4 linked regions of the Homo sapiens genome follow. The protein of the gene in region 2 purifies or fractionates together with the protein of the main gene of each other region. This does not show direct contact. Each region holds a gene or a part of one and is shown on either strand. Other genes may lie near its edges.

Evidence for each region.
Region 1: the proteins of GRHL1 (region 2) and HIC1 purify together in Homo sapiens (co-immunoprecipitation; one large-scale study listed by IntAct). This does not show direct contact.
Region 3: the proteins of GRHL1 (region 2) and KIF2C purify together in Homo sapiens (co-immunoprecipitation; one large-scale study listed by IntAct). This does not show direct contact.
Region 4: the proteins of GRHL1 (region 2) and SSBP1 purify together in Homo sapiens (co-immunoprecipitation; one large-scale study listed by IntAct). This does not show direct contact.

The regions. Positions count from the first base shown.
Region 1 is NC_000017.11:2,060,592-2,063,839, forward strand, and holds the end of HIC1 (hypermethylated in cancer 1 protein), read left to right. Parts: 3' UTR 1-900; coding exon of another isoform or gene 901-1,031; 3' UTR 1,032-2,650; downstream 2,651-3,248. Other genes in the region: SMG6 (telomerase-binding protein EST1A), read right to left, coding at 901-1,031. UniProt on the Homo sapiens protein: Transcriptional repressor. Recognizes and binds to the consensus sequence '5-[CG]NG[CG]GGGCA[CA]CC-3'. May act as a tumor suppressor. Involved in development of head, face, limbs and ventral body wall.
Region 2 is NC_000002.12:9,954,316-9,958,243, forward strand, and holds part of GRHL1 (grainyhead-like protein 1 homolog), read left to right. Parts: intron 1-599; coding exon 600-786; intron 787-3,928. UniProt on the Homo sapiens protein: Transcription factor involved in epithelial development. Binds directly to the consensus DNA sequence 5'-AACCGGTT-3'.
Region 3 is NC_000001.11:44,746,007-44,749,934, reverse strand, and holds part of KIF2C (kinesin-like protein KIF2C), read right to left. Parts: intron 3,542-3,928; exon of another isoform or gene 3,179-3,541; coding exon of another isoform or gene 3,176-3,178; intron 2,552-3,175; coding exon 2,450-2,551; intron 2,284-2,449; coding exon 2,235-2,283; intron 1-2,234. UniProt on the Homo sapiens protein: In complex with KIF18B, constitutes the major microtubule plus-end depolymerizing activity in mitotic cells. Regulates the turnover of microtubules at the kinetochore and functions in chromosome segregation during mitosis.
Region 4 is NC_000007.14:141,744,528-141,748,455, forward strand, and holds part of SSBP1 (single-stranded DNA-binding protein, mitochondrial precursor), read left to right. Parts: intron 1-968; coding exon 969-1,057; coding exon of another isoform or gene 1,058-1,134; exon of another isoform or gene 1,135-2,810; intron 2,811-3,928.

The DNA of each region.
Region 1 (3,248 bases), on a different chromosome or scaffold from region 2:
AGAAGGGGAAGAAGGGTGAGGGGCTATTCTGGAGGGAGGGTAGGCGGGCAAGGAGGGGTGAAGGGGGAGCTGAGGGGAGTCAGGACATTTCCTGAAGAGGAAGCTAGACGGAAAGAAAGGCCAGTGAGGAGAGAGGGAGCAGGTGGAGGCCACCCGAGAGCACGGGCCTGAGACCAGATGCCCCTTTCCTCTAGACTCATGACTGTCCACGGGGACGCAACTGGCGAAGTGTGAGGGACCCAGGTTGATAAGGGCAGGAAGAGGAGCAGCAGGAAGGGTGTGTGGTAAGTCTGGGGTGGATGGTAGAAGAGGTGGGGGCCCAGGGCTGCTGTTAGGGACATGCTGTCTAGAAGCCGACTTGGGTTCATGGGCGAGTCCAGGCCTCAGGGAGACTGGGGACACACACCCTGGGCACTTCTTCCTGACTTAACCAAAGCCTCTTGAACACATTCACGACAGAGGTTCTGAAGATGAAAGGGAACTGTGATTTCACTGCATCTGACGGAAACTCAGAACCCCTGCCCTGTCTCCACTGGAGAAAGTGGCTGCGTCCCCAGGCGAGAAGGCCCTCCCTCAGCCTTGGAATGAGACGGGGGAGGGAGAAAGGCTGAGAGCATGGGCGGCCTATCTGGCTTGCCCAGCTGCTGTTGCTGTAGCCAGCCACCTCCCTGCTAAATCCTGGCAGCCCAGGAGGGTCCCAGCAGCTTCCGCCCGATCCTTGGGAGGGGCTCTGTGAGGAGCAGGTCCCCCACAGCATGGCCGTGGCGTGGGTTGGAAGAGGATGGTTTATTGTCTGGGTGGATTGGTGGCTCAGGCACGTGGGCATCTTCCGTGCTACACTGGGCGCCTGGTGGCCTTTCAGGAACGGTTCCACGGGGGGGGGGCCCCAGTGTGGCTCCCTCAGCCCACCTGGGCCCACGTGAGGAAGGCTGGGATGTCCCGTACAGGAACATTCCTTGTGAGCGCCTTCACACGCAGGTTCCGGTCATCCGTCAACAGCACCACCTCCCGCAGTAGCCGGATTGGCTCCTCTGTGGGCATGAGAGAGCAGAAGGCTGTCACTGAGGACAGGAGGCAGAGGGCTGGCTGCTCTTCTCACCCTGGAGAATGTGGTCCTGGGGAGGGGGTGCCACGCTAGCCGTGTCTTGGCTCTTCTACCAGTCCTTTCCTCCGTCCGGGCTCTCAGCCCCGGGGACCCTCCCCTGCTGGCCTAGAGAGGGCTGCACTGGGCTTCTGCCTTGACTCCGGCCTCCCATACAGGACTCTCTTCTGCCTAGTTCCCAAAAGCTGCCCAAACCCGTCAGCCTCCCAGGACCCTAAACTGAGGGAATAGAAGCAGCCCCTTGACCTCTACTCCTTTTTACCACATGGCTGGCCCCCAGATCACAACACCGCTCTCCCCACACCCCACTTTTTTTTTTTTAACAAGTCCTCTCCCTCTAAAAGCCAGCAGGTTGAAGCTTTACGCATCCAGAGGCAGAAAACTAAAGATGGAACAGAAAATGTATCCAGGGTTTTCCAGATGTGGGGAGAGGGGTTAAGGGAGCCCTGAGGAGAGGAGAGGGTAAGGGTCTTGGCAGAATTGTGCCAAGGGCACACCAAGGCTTTGGCCAACCGGTCGCCCCTGCTAAGTAACAGTAATCCATGTATACAGGCGAAAGTCTCTAAGAGGACAGAAGAGTAAAAAGGAAGAGTAGAGTTAAGATGATGATCCCAGTTCTCCGTCTTGTACCCCAGGGAAGACCTGTGTATCCTTCCAGGTTTCTTTAGGCACATTTACAAGTACATACACTTGGACATATAACCTTTTTTTCCTACAGCATCATGATCATATTAGCCACACTTTCAGAGTATATACTTAAAAGGTCTTGCTATAGTGGCACAGATATCTTTCATTCTTTTTAGATGACTTTTTTTTTTTTTAAGCACAGTCTCTCCACTACCTCTCTTTCCCTAACTCCCTAATCTTTAACACATTGGAGAGAATTTAAGCCAGGGACAAGCACTCACACAAGTGACATCCCTACCCTGACAGGCCTGCTTGGGTGGCAGGTCTACTCGTCAGTCCCAGGCTGGGCATTTCCTGACAGAGGTCCAGGTCCGGCAGACAGCAAGGCACAGGAAGTGTCCTGCTGTGCTCACTGACTGCGTGGGCTGGCGGGGGTGGGGGGCTGCAAATATCCATGTCGGACCTGAGCAGTCTCAGGCTTGCCAGCTCCAGGCAGGGAGGCTGAGAACTGGCTTTCAGCCTGGGGAGGAGTTTGGAGGATTCGGGAGGGAGAGGTTTGTGGGGTTGGTGGTGGCGAGAGAAGAGGACAGGAGGAAGGAGAGTGTGAAGGGAGGCAAGGGGCTGTGGGCAGAGGGGAAAGGAAGGTGGCCTCGGGTGAGGGGATACTCAGAGACTACTCAGCTGCCTGGGCCAGGCCCCTCTGCAGATAAGTGTGGCTGGGGTGGTGGTATGCAGGGCTGTGTGGGGCTCCCAGCTGACTGGCTGCGTCTGTAGCAGCCCCACTATTCCTGCCCTGGGCCTCAAACCAGGAGCGTCCCAGGCCTTAGGTCAGCTAACCAAGGCCCGACATTGCTGGCAGGGGTCTGCAGGGGTTTCTGTGGATACTTTGACATTTTTCACAATAAACATCCTCTGTTTTGACACTGGTAACTTCACTTTGTTAGAAACCAGAGACTGTCATCTTGTCAGGCCCCATCCGCCATAATCCACATGATTTTAAAATTCAACATCGTTTACACATAAACATTTAGTGACGGTTTCTCTGTGAATCTGACAAGTTAATCTGCTAAGAATTCACACTGACAAATGGGCTTTGATTACACCAGCCATTGCTGATGTCATTCTGATAGGGGCGGTCCCCCGGATGGCAATGGGTTCCTGTAGGCTGTTTGGGGTGAAGTCGGGGGTGGGAGGACTAGTAGGACCAAAGCCAAAATGTGTCCGTTCTGAGAAAGAAAGTTCTGAGGCTGGGGTGGGGCCCAGCAGTCCTGGAACCACACTTCCCAACAAGGCCTTCAGCAATCCCGCCTACCTTTCTCTCAGGAGGTACCCCTCTAGGAAGCTCAGGCTTGCCAGCTCCAGGCAGGGAGGCTGAGAACTGGCTTTCAGCCTGGGGAGGAGTTTGGAGGATTTGGGAGGGAGAGGCTTGTGGGGTTGGTGGTGGCGAGAGAAGACGACAGGAGGAAGGAGAGTGTGAAGGGAGGCAAGGGGCTGTGGTGGGCAGAGGGGAGAAGAAGGT
Region 2 (3,928 bases):
CTTTGGCCACATTCCATGCTCAATCTGCTGGTAATCAGTAGAATATTCTGGCTTTCTCATATACCCTGGAGGATTGCGTGAAGGATCCCTTTTTCTTTCTGCTGCTTCTCCCCTCCCCACTGTGTTCAGGTAGGAATTTTTAAGGCATGGCAGCCACAGTAGAAAGAGGGAATAACATGTAGCAGTGTGATGAACGGCACACGCTCTTCTCAAGAGGGGACAGTCCTGATTGTGTGTTGGAAGAGAACAAGTATTCTCTTTTCTTTACTGTGTCCTTGTGTTTGTTTATGGAAAGTATTTGAATAGCCTGGCATTTTCTCGGGGATGGTTTTGTTTCGCTTTTTTGCCAAATAGTATACCCTGGGTTCCACGTGTAGGTGAACTGCCAGTTCTCTGGCTGCCTAGATACTTTATGTCTTACTGTGGGACCCATTGGTCTGCACTTACGTGGTTTGTCTTCTGGTCTTGTCTTAATTTGACTTCCTAGGGTCATTGATGAAACAATAGGCTATTTTATAGGAATGTCAAGGAATTGGTAGCTTATGATACCTTGCAGTAGAAAAGTGTGTGTTTTTGTTTTTTTTTTAATTTCTCTGAAGCAAACGGCCAGTGTTGGTTCTTCAGAATGAAGCACTTTATCCACAGCGGCGGTCCTACACTAGTGAGGATGAGGCCTGGAAATCCTTCCTGGAAAACCCTCTCACTGCAGCGACCAAAGCGATGATGAGCATCAATGGAGATGAAGACAGCGCCGCTGCGCTGGGCCTGCTCTATGACTACTACAAGGTGGGTTTGCCTGCCTTTAAAACCCTTAACAGCAGTCTCCAATGCACTTGATTCAGCAGCATAGAAACAGACATTTGCTGGTAGAATGCCATGCAAGTTGCTTCTGTAGTGACTATAAATAGTTTAATGAGTACTTTGACTTACTGTGATTCGAAGCTAAAAATCTGTGATTGTAGAATCAAAGGGTTGTTTTTAAAACATGCAAAGCGGTCAGCTGCTGTGGCTCTATCCAGAAGGTGAAGCTACCGTAAAAGAAGATGCTAGATGTGCCTTCTTGGGTTTGAGCATCTCACTGAAGGTGGTTCTTAGTGCCATGGAAAGTGGGCAGGGGTCATTTACCTTTTCACCTTTGTTCCTGGGTAGTCAGGATGATTTCCTTTCCCTAAATGATACTACAGAGCCTTTGAAATCATATTCTGTAGTCTAGGACTGTCCAGTTCCAAGATCAGGATATGTTTTGTTGCCTGTTTCTAGAGATTTGGAGTACTCTTAATTAAATATAATCTATACTCTGCATGGAATTTTACATGATTTTCATTATCTGGAAGTGACACTACTGATTTGTCTCATCATCATTGTCCTGATAACACTAGCTGCCACTATTATGCTAGACATGTTACCAGCCTGCGTGCGACTTCTCACTCAGAGGTCACAGCTAGGATGTGTGCATCTGGGGCCCTAGTCTGGTCCATGGCCGAGGCCACTGTCTTTCTAATGCAGCGTGCATACCGCTCTCCTTCTGGATTCACCTCTCCATTCTTCCTTCTGACCAGAAACACACATTTGGGGGTGGCTACGTCTTTAGGGTGCTACTTAAAACAGCAGACTGAGTTGAAGCACAGCTTTGCCACAGGGCCTTTGTCTCATTGTCACTCTGTGTGACTAACCTGTGTAATCATTGTGTTGTCATCAGTACCTGTATAAAAACAGGATCTGTTTGGGATTACCAGAAGCTTCTTAATGACAGTGTCTTCTCATGAATGTAGTGTATATTTTTTACAGTTTATTTTTGCTATCTTTTTGTTTTAAAAACTTTCAAACCTGCATAAAACTTAAAATAAGAGGATAATTAATTCCTGAATACCTTTACCCAGAATCGCCAGTTGCTAGCCATTGGCTACATTCTGGCACTGTATTCTTTCCTTAATACAAGAAATACAGAGGTGAAAGAAGCCTAGGAGATAGTTTTATTATTAAAATTAGGGTGATTAGCCTGAGCAACATGATGAGGCCCTGTCTCTACCAAAAATAAATAAATAAAAAAATACAGAAATTAGCCGGTTAGTACACATGCCTATAGTCTCAGCTACTTAGGAGGCTGAGGTGGGAGGATCACTTAAGCCTGGGAGTTGGAGGCTGCAGTGAGCTGAGATCATGCCATATCACTACACTCCAGCCTGGGTGACAGAGACAGACCCTATCTCAAAAAAAAAAAATGGGGTGATTATTTCCTAGTATGAGGCCATGCGTCTAACTAAGTTGGGGCTGAGGGATTGAGGTAAGCTCTTTTTTCTTTGAATATGAGCAGAAACTTGTGTAATAACTAATGATGCTAGAAGAAACTCTTACCAGGGAAACATAGCCATGAAGAGTTCCTTTGAAGTGGAAATTATTATATATCTGTTCTTATAGCTTGTTTTATTGACTTACTATAAATTAAGTTCCTAAAACATTAATTATGAAGTTACATATTTTTAACTGAAACTTTTGAGAATGGGAGAAACTCGTTGGTACAAGTTTTGTGCCAGAAAGGCCCGTGTGATAACACTAGGTGTACTACTCCTGCGTCTCAGAAGCATGTAAATCCTCATGTCTGTCCATGAAGGGTGACAATTTTAGTGGTACTTACTTGTCAGACTTCTTGTGATAGGTGTAAATTTATTTTCTTCTTCTTCTTCTTCTTTTTTTTTTTTTTAATAGAAGCAGAGTCTCGCTCTTGCCCACGCTGAAGTGTGGTGGTGCAGTCATAGCTCACTGCAACCTCAACCTCCTGGGGTTGACTGATTCTCCTGCCTCAGCTTCCTGAGTAACTAGGATTATAGGTCATGCCTGGCTAATTTTAAAATTTTTTGTAGAGAGGAGTCTCACTATGTTGCCCAGGCTGGTCTCAAATTCCTGGCCTCAGGTAATCTTCCTGCCTTAGCCTCCCAAAGTATTAGGATTACGGACGTGAGCCACTGTGCCTGGCCTATTTTCTTTTTCAAATAAACTGAATTATTTGTTTCAGGTCTTTGGCTGTATAAGCATCAGTCATTATTACATAATAATTTTGATAAAGCTTGAAAAGCATATTGTTAATACATGAAGCAGTATTTTTTTTTTTTTTGATACAGAGTCTCGCTCTGTCGCCCAGGCTGGAGTGCAGTGGCGCAGTCTCAACTTACTGCAGCCTCTGCCTCCTGGGTTCAAGCAATTCTCCTGCCTCAGCCTCCCGAGTAGCTAGGACTGCAGGCGTGTGCCACCATGCCCAGCTAATTTTTTGTGTTTTTAGTAGAGACGGGGTTTTAACATGTTGGCCAGGATGGTCTCGATCTCTTGACCTTGTGATCCACCCGCCTCGGCCTCCCAAAGTGCTGGGATTACAGGCGTGAGCCACCGCGCCTGGCCAGCAGTGTTTTGTCTTTAATGGTGAAAACAAGGATGCAGGAATAGAATTTTCACGCTGAAAGCCATTTTTAAGCACCTTAGCCATTTTGGAGTGCGCAATGGGGTTAAATCTCAGTTGAGTTATTTCTACAGGACACTCACTAACATTTGCCTACTTTTCACTTCCCTTGCAAAGAAAAGAACCAAAAAAGGAATAGAACACTGAGTTAGACTTGTCCTTTGGGTGATGGACGTATGAATCCCAGCGTATCTAAAGACAGTGATCATATGAAGCCCTCATTTGGATCTTAGAAGAAATGAAGGGTTAACATGGCTGTTCCTTCTGCTTTTGCATTTGATCTGAATGGAGGGTGGTAGGAAAGAGCACTGAGAAAGTTGGAAGAGCTCCGTTGTGTTTTCAGTAGCTTCTTCTCTAATGTTGTGTAGATAAACGAGTAAAACCAGGGCAGAGGTATTTCTTTTTTTCTTTTTTTTTTTTTTTTTGAGTCAGGAAGGGTCTTGCTCTATCGCCCAGGCCAGAGTGCAGTGGCGCAAT
Region 3 (3,928 bases), on a different chromosome or scaffold from region 2:
AATTTTTGTATTTTTTTTTTAGTACAGACGGGGTTTCACCATGTTGGCCAGCATGGTCTCAATCTCTTGACCTTGTGATCCACCCGCCTCGGCCTCCCAAAGTGCTGGGATTACAGGTGTGAACCACCGTGCCCAGCCCATCTTTTTTGAGAGACAGAGTCTCACACTGCCACCCAGGCTGGAGTGCAGTGGCATGATCTTGGCTCACTGCAACCTCTGCCAAAACCAACTTCTACCCAGTTTCTGAGTATTATAAGTTCAGGCTGATGGCTATATATAATCCATGTTTTGAATTTTTACAATCGTCCTATTTCCCTAATGATTTTATTTTATTTTTTATTTTTATAATAAGACTGAGTCTTGCTATATTGCCCAGGCTGGTCTCAAACTCCTAGGTTCAAGCCATCTTCCTGCCTCAACATCCCAAAGCACTGGGCTTACAGGTGTGAGCCATCACATCTAGCCCCAAATGATCTGTAATTTTTTTTCTTTGTTTTTTTGAGACCGAGTCTCACTCTGTCACCCAGGCTGGAGTACAGTGGCATGATCTCGGCTCACTGCAACCTCTGCCCCCCCGGGCTCAAACGATTCTCCTGCCTCAGCTTCCTGAGTAGCTGGGATTACAGGCACCCACCACCACGCCTGGCTAATTTTTGTATTTTTAGTAGAGACAGGGGTTTCACCATGTTGGCCAGGCTAGTCTTGAACTCCTGACCTCAGGTGATCCACCCGCCTTGGCCTCCTAAAATGCTGGGATTACAGGTGTGAGCCACCACACCCGGCCAGTTTTTTGTATTTTGAATAGAGACAGGGTTTCACCATGTTGACCAGGCTGGCTTGGAACTCCTGACCTCAGGTGATCTGCCCACCTTGGCCCCTCAAAGTGCTGGGATTACAGGCATGAGCTACTGCTCAGGGCCTTAAAGATTTTTTTTTCCATTAAAATGAGCTGTGTAGCTGGGCATGGTGGTGTGTGCCTGTAGTCCCAGCACTTTGGGAGGCTGAGGCAGGAGGACTGCTTGAAGCTAGGAGTTCAAGACCAGCTTAGGCAACAAAGCGAGACTCCATCCTAAAGAAAAAAAGCTATTGGCTGGGCATGGTGGCTCGCGCCTGCAATCCTAGCACTTTAGGAGGCTGAAGCAGGAGGATCACTTGAGGCCAGGAGTTTGAGACCAGCCCAGGCAACATAGTGAGACCTTGTCTCTACAAAAAAAAAAAAAAAAAAAATTAGCCAGGTGTGATGGGGCACACCTGTAGTCCCAGCTACATGGGAGGCTGAGGTGGGAGGATTGCCTGAGCCCAAGAGTTCAAGGCTACAGTGAGCTACGATCATATCATGGTATTCCAGCATGGACAACCAAGTGAGACCCTGCCTTTGAAAAACAAAACAAAACAAAGCTGGGGCAATATCCTTTGAGGACATGAACACGGAATGGGACTGCTGCGAGTCCCAACTCTCCTGCATGACCTTACGGTACACCCAGCAAGAAAGGGCCAGCACCACAATAGTCAGGCCCAAGCTTGCAATGGCACCACCTTCCACTCAGGGCCCCCAGAACCTGAAGCTCCAGCCAAGTATTCTGTGAGTCCCTGAGGTAGCTGAATCATTTCAGGGCAATGATGACCCCTAGACCTGGAGAGCTGTGCAGGTCACCAGCCTTCAAGGTACAACTGGCTTTAAGCTGGATCTTTTGGGAAGCTTACCCCCTAGAGTCACAGTCTATCATGTTGTCAAAGTAGGTTTTCACAGACTACTTCTGCAGAGAGACTCCCAACCTCCTAGACCACGAGGCAATGCTGTTATTCTCTCCAGCCCCAGCCATCCCTCTCTATAGCGCCACCAACTGTACTTCTAAACAACCCACAGGCCTAGTGTCTCCCATTTTCAAAATCTCTTTCCAAGGCATACTGTTCCACTGAGGGGGCTGAGCCCCGAGGGAAGAAAAAAGGCCTACCAATGGCTGATTCCTACTCTCCTCAGCATCAGGCTCTGGATTCTACAGAAAAGGTTTCTAGGCCAGGCAGCAAATTTCCTAAATGCACCAGGTCTCTTAAAGGTTGGCCTGATAGCTGTAGATTGGATTCTTTCTCATAGAGAAAGATGCTTGGAACACAGGCAGGACTCAACCCACATAGAAACCACCTGCAAAAGAGGAGCTTCCACAACTCTGAGTCCTAGAAACATAATTCCTGACACAAATTCCATGATAGTAAGCTAGTAGAAATCCACTTACTTTCTTTTGGAGCAGGAATTTTGGAGTTGACGGATCTCCGTTTTTGTTTCTGAAAAACAAATCAAATTGTCACAATATATGGCTCTTATCAATTCTCAAGGGCCCATCCTGGGCCCATGTACTATGCTAAAATGCCAGACAATCAATCAGCAAAGAGTCAATAAGCAAAGTGAATTCTCTGGCGCACTGGCTGCAGCCAGATGACAGGCACCTACCTGGATTGTTACATTTTCCTGCAAGGGCAGATTGTCCTTCGGATGTAAGGGAAGAAGCTGTAAGAGTTCTGGGTTTATTGCAGCCACATCATCAAAATCAATCTGCAAGGAGCAAGTAAAAGTTTCAATGAAACAACATTGTTCAATCCAAATACATTTTTTCTTTTTTTTTTTTTTTGAGACAGAGTATCGCTCTGTCGCCCAGGCTGGAGGGCAGTGGTGCGATCTTGGTTCAATGCAACCTCTGCCTCCTGGGTCCAAGCAATTCTCCTGCCTCAGCCTCCTGAGTAGCTGGGACTACAGGCATGCGCCACCACGCCCAGCTAATTTTTGTATTTCCAGTAGAGACAGGGTTTCACCATGTTGGCCAGGATGGTCTCAAACTCCTGGCCTCAGGTGATCTCCCCACCTCGGCCTCCTAAAGTGCTGGGATTACAGGTGTGAGCCACTGTGCCTGGCCCCCCCGAGGCTGAGGCGGGAGAATTGCTGGAATCCAGGAGGCGGAGGTTGCATTGAGCTGAGATTGAGCCACTGCCCTCCAGCCTGGGCAACAGAGCAAGACTCTGTCTCAAAAAACAAAAAACAAACAAACAAACAAAAAAACAACATAGAAAAAATTAAATTTCTATAGACAGGGGTACCCCTAAATTCAAACTTTACCAACTTTAAGTTCCACTAAGTATGAATAGCTATAAAACAAATAGTTACTCCTTAATAATGGTTTACCATCTAGATGGATATGGGTTTCTGATTTCCAAGCCAATGGTAGACGTCAGTGATGAGAATGAGGTGAAGAGGAGGGCAGACAGGCAGGCAAACAGTCGGGTACTCCACAGCAGATCTAGGCCACTTGGCTCCCCTGCTGATCTGCTGGGCAGTGAGGTCCTGCTGGGCACAGCCCCCCAAGCACCTCTTGATGGCTGACACGGAGGAGGAAACAAGTTCTAACTGTCTGGTGAGAGTCAAATGGGGGCCCTTTAGGATCTTATGGGCAGGGGCAAGTTCCTGACAGCTGCTACCTAACCCTAAGACTACCTACATTTTCTTCTGGGCCCAGAAACTTCCCCAGTTACGGCTTCCTGCCCATGCCTTACCTATTTCCTGTTGATGCCTGCAATGAGGTCACAATTCTAAGTTTACATCATCAGAGTCCTGCAATTCTCCAGGAACAACTCAAACTTCACCAGGATAGCTTTACAACAGGTTCAGACATATTAAATTTGTCCCAACTTTGTATTTCAAAATGTGACAGAGCTGAAGCATGTACTCTAGGGTGAGGGCTTTACTGCCTAGAGATGAAACCTGCAGGACTGGGTGCGGTGGCTCACGCCTGTAACCCCAGCACTTTGGGAGGCCGAGGTGGGCGGATTACCTGACCTCAGGAGTTCAAGGCCAGCCTGGGCAACACGGTGAAACCCCTGTCTCTACTAAAATACAAAAAGTTGGCTGGGTGTGGCAGCGTGCACCTGTAATCCCAGC
Region 4 (3,928 bases), on a different chromosome or scaffold from region 2:
TTTCCAAACTCATAGAAGGACAAAACGGTGTGTGTAACAGCAGTTGTATTGATAGTTAATATGTTTAGAAATGTACTTGTTTTGTAGAAAGAAAACATATTTTATGAAAAATAATTTAGCAATCACTAAAATTTTTCTTTTCAATAACTGTATAGCTTTTCTTCCTATGTATCTTCATTGCCCTTTATGTATGTTTATGAATATGTGCACATACACACACAAACACATATAAGGTATTTCAAGGGAAGTGTCTGCACTCCCACTTACTGATTGATGGGTGTGTGTGTGGGGTGGGGAGCACCTGATGTTTCACTAATCTTTCTGTGTTGTACTTTTTTGGTGGTGGTAGACTCTCAAAACTGGTACTATTGTCATCTTTCCACTCTTGAAAATCACGATTAGGTTTGTTATCTAGTTTAGCCTCTAGATAGTGTAGAAATAGTCTTAGTAATTACCTCTAAGTGGTATACTAAGCTGATACAGTGTAGAAATAGTCTTAGTAATTAACTCAGGGTAATATTATACTAAACTAACTACAAATCCATATTTTGAATTTTAATCATCTAAGTTTCTAAGGTCATAGAAAATAATTGATAAATAAGTGAAAATCAAGTCTGTTAGGGACTCCAAAATCAAAGGTCAAGGAAAATGATACATTGGAAATTATTCCTAGAGATTTAAATGTTGCCACTAAATTTCCCTTTGAACTGTTTTGTTTTATTTTTTAACTTCCGTAAGAGAAATAGCTGACAGATGAAAACATTGTCTGTTTTACCTAGATGTTACCAAGTCTGTTTGGACACTCTGTTTCAGTACTCCTAATCCTGAACCTTGAGAAGTGGTAGCAAAAATTAGCTTATATATGATTATATATTTCATCCTTGTCATATACTCAGTACCACCCTGACCTGACTCTTATAAAGCATATTAAGATCTCAACTAAAAACTGTACATTTTATTTATATCAGGTCTCGAATTTATTTGGAAGGGAAAATAGACTATGGTGAATACATGGATAAAAATAATGTGAGGCGACAAGCAACAACAATCATAGCTGGTAAGAAGCTTGTGAAAATAGCTGTTTTTTTCTTTTTCTCCTTTTCTTTTTTAAAAGCTTGGCTACACTGTAACTAACTAGGGTTAAGAGTACCAGTACTTATGAGTTAAGGCAACTCACTAGAAGATGTCCATAACTCTTATTTCTCTACTTGCTAAGAGTTTGTACATTTATCCCTTCCTTTAAAAAATTATTTTTATACTTACAGTTTTAGTCACAAGTAACTTTTGAATAAAGCCTAAAACTGAATTATCCATCCCAGTACTTATTGTTGAGAATTACAAAAACTCTGAATGTATTGTCTTTTGGAAGGATCTAGCCCTAACCAGGAAGAAGCGTATGCCAAGATAAGAATTACACTAATGTGAGTGTGCAGATTTATTCGGAACCTCTTTGGTACTTAGTATGTGAAATTTCTATTTGAAATTAAGATTTTTTTAATTTTATTTTTTTTGAGCCAGAATCTCACTCTGTCACCCAGGCTGGAGTGCAATGGCACAATCTCGGCTCATTGCAACCTCTGTCTCCTGGATTCAAGTGATTCTCCTGCCTCAGCCTCCTGAGTAGCTAGGATTATAGGTGCGTGCCACACCACCTGGCTAATTTTTGTAATTTTCGTAGAGGCGGGGTTTCACCATGTTGGTCAGGCTGGTCTTGAACTCCTGACCTCAGGTGATCCATCCACCTCGGCCTCCCAAAGTTGTGAGATTACAGGCATGAGCCACTGTGCCCAGCCAAGAAGTTTTTAATTTTCTCTTTTTTTGTTTTTGTTTTGAGACAGGGTCTCCCTCTGTCAACCAGGCTGGAGTGCAATGGTGTGATCACAGCTTACTGCAGCCTCTACCTCCCCAGGCTCAGGTGATCTTCCCACCTCAGCCTTCTCCCAAGTAGCTGGGACAACAGGTGTACACCATCATGCCTGGCTAATTTGTCAATTTTTTTGTAGAGATGAGGTTTCACCATGTTGCCCAGGCTGGTCTCAAACTGCTGGGCTCAAATGATCCTCCCACCTTAGCCTCCCCAAATACTGGAATTACAGGCATGAGCCATTATGCCCGGCCTAATATTCTCTTTAAACAAAATACAGTACAACATAGAAAAGATGTACACGTAAAGGTTAAAGAAGATTAAGAAGATATCCCTTAGGAAAGAGTTTTTAAACTTTTGAAAATGCTATAAGAATTTTGAAAATAATATACCCCTCTGGATGTCTGCAAGCGACATTAAGAAATTTTTTTCAATACAAAATTGTGTTATTTTTAAATGTATCAATGGAATCTAAATAGCATAGCAATGTGATACCTACTATCCTGTAAAAAAATACCAGTTCAGCATTTGGAAATTTTCCATTATTCTTTTTTCTTTGAACTTGTTTTACTGTTTTTATTTTCCCCTCAGAAGTGTATCTTAATAGTATATGGTATAGTTAAGAACTTTTTATTACCCTGTTTGTAACAAAAATGCATGCATAAAAGAAACTTTAAAATATTTAAAAGAATTCTATGACAAATTCTTCTCAATTGACTTATCATTAAAGTTGTTTTTAGTACCTAATTGATCAAAACAATTTTAATGTATTTAAATTATATTGGAAATATGTCTTTAAATGAGATAGATGGTGCTTTTTTCACTTCTTGAGTAAATTGCTAAAATTAGACATTGTGAATTTTGTGCTTTTGTTTGCTTTTATGGACATAAATACTAAGAAAGCTTTTTAAAATAAATACATGGCAATAAACTAAATTTTACTATATTAATGTTTCTGTGTTTATGAACTTCTGAGATATGCCCAAATTAGATTTTTTTTTTTTTTTTTTTTTTTTGAGACAGCGTCTCACTCTGTTGCCCCGGCTAGAGTACAGTGACACGATCCTGGCTCACTGCAACCTTCGCCTCCCGGGTTCAAGCGATTCTCCTGCCTCAGCCTCCTGAGTAGCTGGGACTACAGGCACGCGCCACCACGCCCAGCTAATTTTTGTATTTGTAGTAGAGATGGGGTTTCACCATATTGGCCAGGCTGGTCTCGAACTCCTGACCTCGTGATCTGCCCACTTCAGCCTCCCAAAGTGCTGGGATTACAGGCGTGAGCCACCGTGCCCGGCTAGATAATATTTTTTAAAAATTGATTTTTGGGCTGGATGCAGTGGCTCACGCCTGTAATCCCAGGCCTTTGGGAGGCTGAGGTGGGTGGATCATTTGAAGTCAAGAGTTCAAGACCAGCCTGGGAACATGGTGAAACCCTGTCTCTACACAAAATGCAAAAAGTAGCCGGGTCTAGTAATGCGTGTCTGTAGTCCCAGCTACTCAGGAGGCTGAGTCATGAGAATTGCTTGAACCCAGGAGGCAGTGTTTGTAGCGAATTGAGATCACACCACTGCACTCCAGCCTGGGCAATAGAGGAAGACTCTCTCAAAAAAAAAAAAAAAAAAAAAATTTTTTTTTTTTTACTATGGAAAATGTCAAACATGTATAAGAGCAGAAAAAATGGTAAAATGAACTCCTACCATTTCGCTTCAGTGTCAGCTGATGGACAGTGTTATATCCATGCCTCCAGCGACTTGACCTACACCTGGATTATTTTGAAACAGATTCTAGACATAAGTTTATTCATAAATTTCCATAGGGATCTCTAAAAGATAAGGTGTCTTTTTGAAAATGTAACTACCGTGCTATTATCACACCTAATATTAATAAATTACTGTTAATTTTTTTACTAAATATCGTAGTGTTCAAATTTCCTTGATAACTTCATAAACATTCATACATTATATTACATGATTTCTACCTTAAGTCTCTTAGATTTGCCTTTTATCTTTCTTCTTTCCTTTGCTCCAGAGTTCATGTCTTAACCACCATACCTTATTAATAATT